Regions from separate parts of the Homo sapiens genome. Here region 2 is linked to region 1. The links come from fine-mapping of genetic effects on gene expression. A gene starts in region 1. The other region holds a variant in brackets. All regions are shown on one strand. Distances are between the middles of the regions.

Region 1 (2,914 bases):
AACCTCTGCCTCCCGGGTTCAAGCGATTCTCCTGCCTCAGCCTCCAGAGGAGCTGGGATTACAGGCACCTGCCATCACGCCTAGCTAATTTTCGTATTTTTAGTAGAGACAGGGTTTCACTGTGTTGGCCAGGCTGGTCTCGAACTCCTGATCCTCCCGCCTCGGCCTCCCAAAGTGCTGGGATTACAAGCATGAGCTACTGTGCCGGCCAAATCTTGCTGTCTTCTAGTAGGCTCATTAAAGAGATTTGCAAAAATGTAAAACTATGTTACTCCTCTCACTGAACTTTTATTGCTTTGAAGAACATTATTTTTTGCATAAAAGTATGTTAACATGTAATGTGTTTTATGGTCATTTAAAAATGATTAAATAAATATTTAAACATTTTATGTTTTAATTTCTAATGTGGTAAATATTGATAAGCATAACCCATATCAACAAATGTTCTTTGGAATGTTCAACAAATTTTAAGAGGATTAATGGTCCCTAAATCAAGAGTTTCAGAACCACTGTTCTAGGGCAATTTACCTGAGTTGGATTTTATTTACAATTCATTAAAGCTTATACACTATGAAGACATGTTAACTTGCATGTTTTAATCTAGAAGAGGTGCAAATCATTTCTATACACTAGAAATGATAATCTATGGTTTTATCATCTTGTAGAACACCAGCCAGCTTTGTATCCAACCTAATCTTACTCTAATGCTTTGTCAAAATGTTTAATCTCCACTTCCTCAAAATGCTTTTGAACCAGCTTTACCATATCATTGTTAATTTGCTGAAGAAATCTTGGATATGTGTTCATGATATATTTGTATGAGTGTCATGCTTTTTACTTTTTTAAGATTATACTTTGACAGACACTAACAACATATGTATATATGACGTATATATGTATATACATACTATACACACACATACACGTACATATTTCACAACGATGGCATACGGATTCTCTATTCTGAATCTAGCTCTTTCCACTTAATATACGTTGAATGCACTCTTTATTTTCTTCGTCATCTTGACTTTCTTCTGATGCAACGCCCTGAGTTTAACTCACAGATCTGTTAATAAGAAACCCATACATCCCACATATACGCATTTTCCCGTCTCTGGCTCACTAACAAAAAGCTTACCCTAGCCCCATCTTTAACCATAGGTTCCAAATACCCAGGCTGGAATTCAACACAGAAATAAGAAAGGATCCACAGACAACGTGACAAAAATCCGAGCAGTCACGTGACACTGCACGCCCCATAATTTTTTTCCGCCCGCTTCAAACATGGCGGTCAAGCCCTCGCAGCGCAGCAGAAGCCACGGGCTTCCTTCCGCGTAGGAACCTCCTTGCTGCCCTTGTCGGGCTCTTTTGTCTAAGACCACCTCAAGGCAAAGCCCGTGGGGCAGCTGGGTCTGGGGAAAACAGCCCGGGGCCGCGGGGGCCGAACGAGCACGGACCGGAAGTTCCGCAGCCGCGCCGTCCGGCGGAGCCGTTGGCTGCGGACGCCGGAAGTGGCCAGTCGGCAGGTCTGAGGCGGCGCTGTGTGTGTGAAGCGTACCTAGGGCGGGAGGCGACATGGAGACAGGGGCGGCCGAGCTGTATGACCAGGCCCTTTTGGGCATCCTGCAGCACGTGGGCAACGTCCAGGATTTCCTGCGCGTTCTCTTTGGCTTCCTCTACCGCAAGACAGACTTCTATCGCTTGCTGCGCCACCCATCGGACCGCATGGGCTTCCCGCCCGGGGCCGCGCAGGCCTTGGTGCTGCAGGTGAGGCGGGCGGGCCTGCGGTCTGGGGAGCCGCCGCCCCCGGCCTGCCCTGACTCCTGGCGCCCGCTCCTCCAAGCTCTCCCAGCCTGTTTCCTCCTTTTCCTGGTGTCCTGGGGTTGAGCTTGTGAGAATGGCTTCAGTAATTTGAAGCGCGGATTGGATGTCAGCTTATTCCGCTGAGGTGTTCGCTCCGGACGTCCTGAGGTTTCAGAAGTAGTAAGCCGACTGTTAAGAGCCCTACTCAGCACCCGCCAGCGCGTACCCCTCACGGTGCTGGGGGCCGCTAGTCAGGGAGCGAAATCCATGCAGGCCAGACAGAAGGAAGGACATTTACAGCAACAGAAACGTGCATGCCCCAGAACTACCAAAGACTTGAGCTGGCGGGGATGACGGAGGCATTGTGTTGATCAATGGGTGTGGTCGCTTGTTTGAAATGTGACTTCCCAGGTCAAAGACTGTCAATGTAGTGCTTATTAAAATTTCTATTTGAGCTTAATTCCGTACCCTCCAGGTTAAGTTTATTGTATGTTGGAAACGCTGTCAATACTCATTCAGTGAAGTTGACTGGGCACTTTTGAATGTAGTGGTAAGCAACCTTTTGCTGAATGTAGTTTACACTCTTAGTTGCCGCAGGTGAGGGTGATACGGGTGTTTAAGTAATGGTTTCTCTCTCCTTGTGACACAGTTAAAGAGAGAAAACCCAGAAAGTAATAGAAAACTTTTTAAGGGCAATTATTTGATGGAGCCCATTGTAAAGAAAGGAAATAGAAATGATGGTTGAGAAGTGAAGTTTTTATAAGAGAGGTGGGACTTCTGATGAGATTAAAAGAAACTATTCAGCCAAGTATTAAGCCTATTTGTAGAAACCCAAGAAGATAGAAATGCTGATGATACCTCCCTCAGTTCTCTAGATGTTACAGTTTATAAAATGCTTCAGATGTTTCCTCCTGAAGTCTTAATGCATGCTGCAGGTTGGTAAGATGTTACTTTCCTCAGCAGAAGCCAAAGCTTTGAATGTCTTGGTAGCTACCAGGGTAATAGGGCCAAACGAGGAATGGGGTTCCATTAGGATTCAATTTCAGAACTTAAGGCTATTCCTCGTCCTTGTCAGTGGCATAAGTGCCATCTTAGTGATGAGAGAGCTGTT
Region 2 (2,914 bases), 49 kb after region 1:
TAGGTTCTCTTGGTTGCATAAGTAAACATAAATAAACCAGTAAACAAAATGCCTGCTTTCTGTGTGAATACGTTGTCATTTGATGTCATGGTGTTAAGTATGAAGGTGCTATAAAGAAAAGGGGAGGCCAGGTGCGGTGGCTCACCCCTGTAATCCCAGCACTTTGGGAGGCCAAGGTGGGTGGATCACGAGGTCAGGAGATCGAGACCATCCTGGCTAATACGGTGAAACCCCTTCTCTACTAAAAATAGAAAGAAAAAAAATTTAGCCAGGCGCAGTGGTGGGCGCCTGTAGTCCCAGCTACTCGGGAGGCTGAGGCAGGAGAATGGCGTGAACCCGGGAGGCGGAGCTTGCAGTGAGCCGCGATAGCGCCACTGCAGTCCGGCCTGGGCCAAAGAGTGAGACTCTGTCTCAAAAAAAAAAAAAAAAAAAAGAAAAGGGGAGAGTCCGCCCCTCTTGTAGTTAGGGAGGAAGTTCAATTTTGTTAAAGACTTGAGGGTAAGAGGAAAGTAATTCAATGAGTGAGCTGAGACAGAAGATGAATGAGGCGAGGTGAGCCTCCATCTTGTCACTTGTCCCCTCCCATCTTCAGCCCTCGTGGGGCTGAAGTGATTCAGCCTGAGTGTCCTTGGCCCTGCCCTGGGTCCCCCAGGTGCATACTCTCCTGCATGTGCTTACACCCTCAGGCTTGCCTGCAGTCTCCATGCTGGTGCCCCCAAACAGCCCCTGGAACTACTTCTTTTGGCATTCTGCAGTCTACTCTCCATGTGGCAGCTGTGCATTGACCTTTTAAAACAACCAAATAACATTGTTCCCTGTCCCAACCTTGCAGTGATTTGCAATCACTTTTTAATTAAATTCTGAACTCTGTTTTAAAAAGCCCTATGCTGATCTTGGCTAGTAAGATAGCTTCTCCTCTTTGATGATAACAATATTATTTGTATTAATAATCTACATCAGTAAAAATATTAATGATGGTGACAGTGATGACTGCAGCTAACACTTACTCTGAGTCGTACACTGTTCTGAGCATTGTATCTATTCACTCATTAACCCCAGGAACATCTTTGAGGAAGGTACTCATGTGCTCCCATTTTGTAAGTTTTATAAATGTGAAAATGGAGATATGAACCCAAGGGCACAGTGAGTTGGAGGCAAAGATGAGCCCTGAGCCAGTGCTGTGGCTGTGGATCAAGGAGTTTGTGTGGGACACTGTCTAGGCTGCTCATCTCTGTGGTCTTCATAGCTGGCCCTGTCTTGCCATTTATCAGAGTTCTGTGTGAATGTCCAGCTCCTCCCAGGGGCCTTCTCTGTTGACCAGAGGCTCTGAGAGCCACTTAATCACTTTTGATTAACTC[C/T]AAGTTTGTAAGTCCCACGTTGTTCCCATCTGTGTCCTGGGACCTACAACAGTAAGGTTACCTGGGCCAGTACTCTTTGAGTGGCAGGTGGGGCCGGCTCTGATGTGTGGGCTAGCTATGGAGCCCTGACCTGAAGCCTGGGATCCAAGTGTGGGTAGTCCTAGCTGCGAGGGTGGCACAGAGAGTCCAGAGACTGAACAGAGGCTGGGCAGGGCGGGTAGACATGGCGAGTCTTTGACTGGGCTGTATGTAGGGTTTCTGATGCTTCCATACTCCAGGCAGAATAAATTGGTGCTATTGTTGGCGGGAGCAAAATTGGACAATGTGGAATTCATTTCTCCCTGGAAGACTGGGTGGTTCTTGGTACTGAAAGTCCTCCCAGGATATAATATCTTCAAGAAAACAAAAGATAACCTCACTAGTCATATCAAAGTAGTTTAGTCTAAGAATCCCTAAAAATCCAGTGTTGTCATGCTATGAGTAAAGCTAAGAAACCAACATGACAGTGCCCTCCACATACTGACTGTTGTGAAAACACGTCTTGTTATTTTTGGAAAGTCCTCTTGGTAGACCACTAACATTTTCGCCCCCAAAACAGCAGGAGCAGTAAATAACAACCTTCTAGATAAATCAAATGGGAAAGCATTGCCAGAATTTGCTATATCAAGTGCTGTGAATAGTGGCACCCAGCAGGGAAATTATGGAGAGAAAAGTGCTTTTATTTGCTTTTCAAAGTTGGTGGGACTGTGGGAATATGGGAGATGGGAAGAAAAGGAGGAAAAAGAGAAAAATACTGTCATCTTGAGTTGAAAATGGGTGCTAAACCTTTTTGCTTAGGACTGTGATTCAGTATCAAGGGAAGGAAACTGTTAACTCAGGTATTACTAATAGCCTCATGTTGGTGAGAGAGAGAGCTCACATGCAAGAAGACTAGGTAAGAGCTTATGAGTCTCACAACAGGCTAAGAATTGGGATCATTATTGTTCCCATTTTATAGATGAGGAAATTGAGGCTTTAATGAGATAGAGGAATTTGCTCAGATAACACACCTAGTATGAGCTGAAGCCCAGGATTCAAACTATGGGCTGGCTTCAACCCCATGGTCTGAATTGTCACAGCTGCAGACTTAAACCTCCTCCCCTTTCCCTCTCTTTGAGTGTTAGTTGGCATGATATATTTGTGAAAACTAACTAAAACCAGAAAAATCGAAAAAAAAAAATCCTGTGTCAAGTTAGTAATAATGATCACAGGCTTTTTTTTTTTTTTTTTTTTCAATTTTTCTGGTTTTCTCACTAGTTAGTGTCCCTTTTCTATTCCAGAATTAGGTCCAGGAGTCACCTTGCATTTAGGCATTATGTTCTCGTCACCTTCAGTCTGTGGCAATTTCCATCTTCTTTTGATTTTCATGGACGTTCACACTTTTGAAGAGGCCAGGTATGTTGTAGAATGTTCCCAATTTGGGTCTATGTAGTGTTTTCTTATGATTAGACTCAGGGCTATGGATTTGGAGAGGAATACCACAGAGGTGTCTTGTCTTTCTCATCATGTCACATTGG

What was found.
Region 2: its variant is fine-mapped to the expression of NUDCD3 in whole blood (INTERVAL, PIP 0.96).

What each region holds. Positions count from the first base shown.
Region 1 is chr7:44,489,262-44,492,175 of GRCh38, reverse strand. It overlaps NUDCD3 (NudC domain containing 3), which reads left to right and starts at 1,518. Exons shown (of 6, transcript NM_015332.4): 1 at 1,518-1,767. The coding sequence starts at 1,576. RefSeq lists a silencer at 1,767-1,936.
Region 2 is chr7:44,440,213-44,443,126 of GRCh38, reverse strand. The region is part of intron 2 of NUDCD3 (NudC domain containing 3); the gene reads left to right. Among named protein-coding and RNA genes, the nearest start is that of NUDCD3, 49 kb to the left of the region's middle. The variant C/T (reference allele first, on the strand shown) is at 1,359.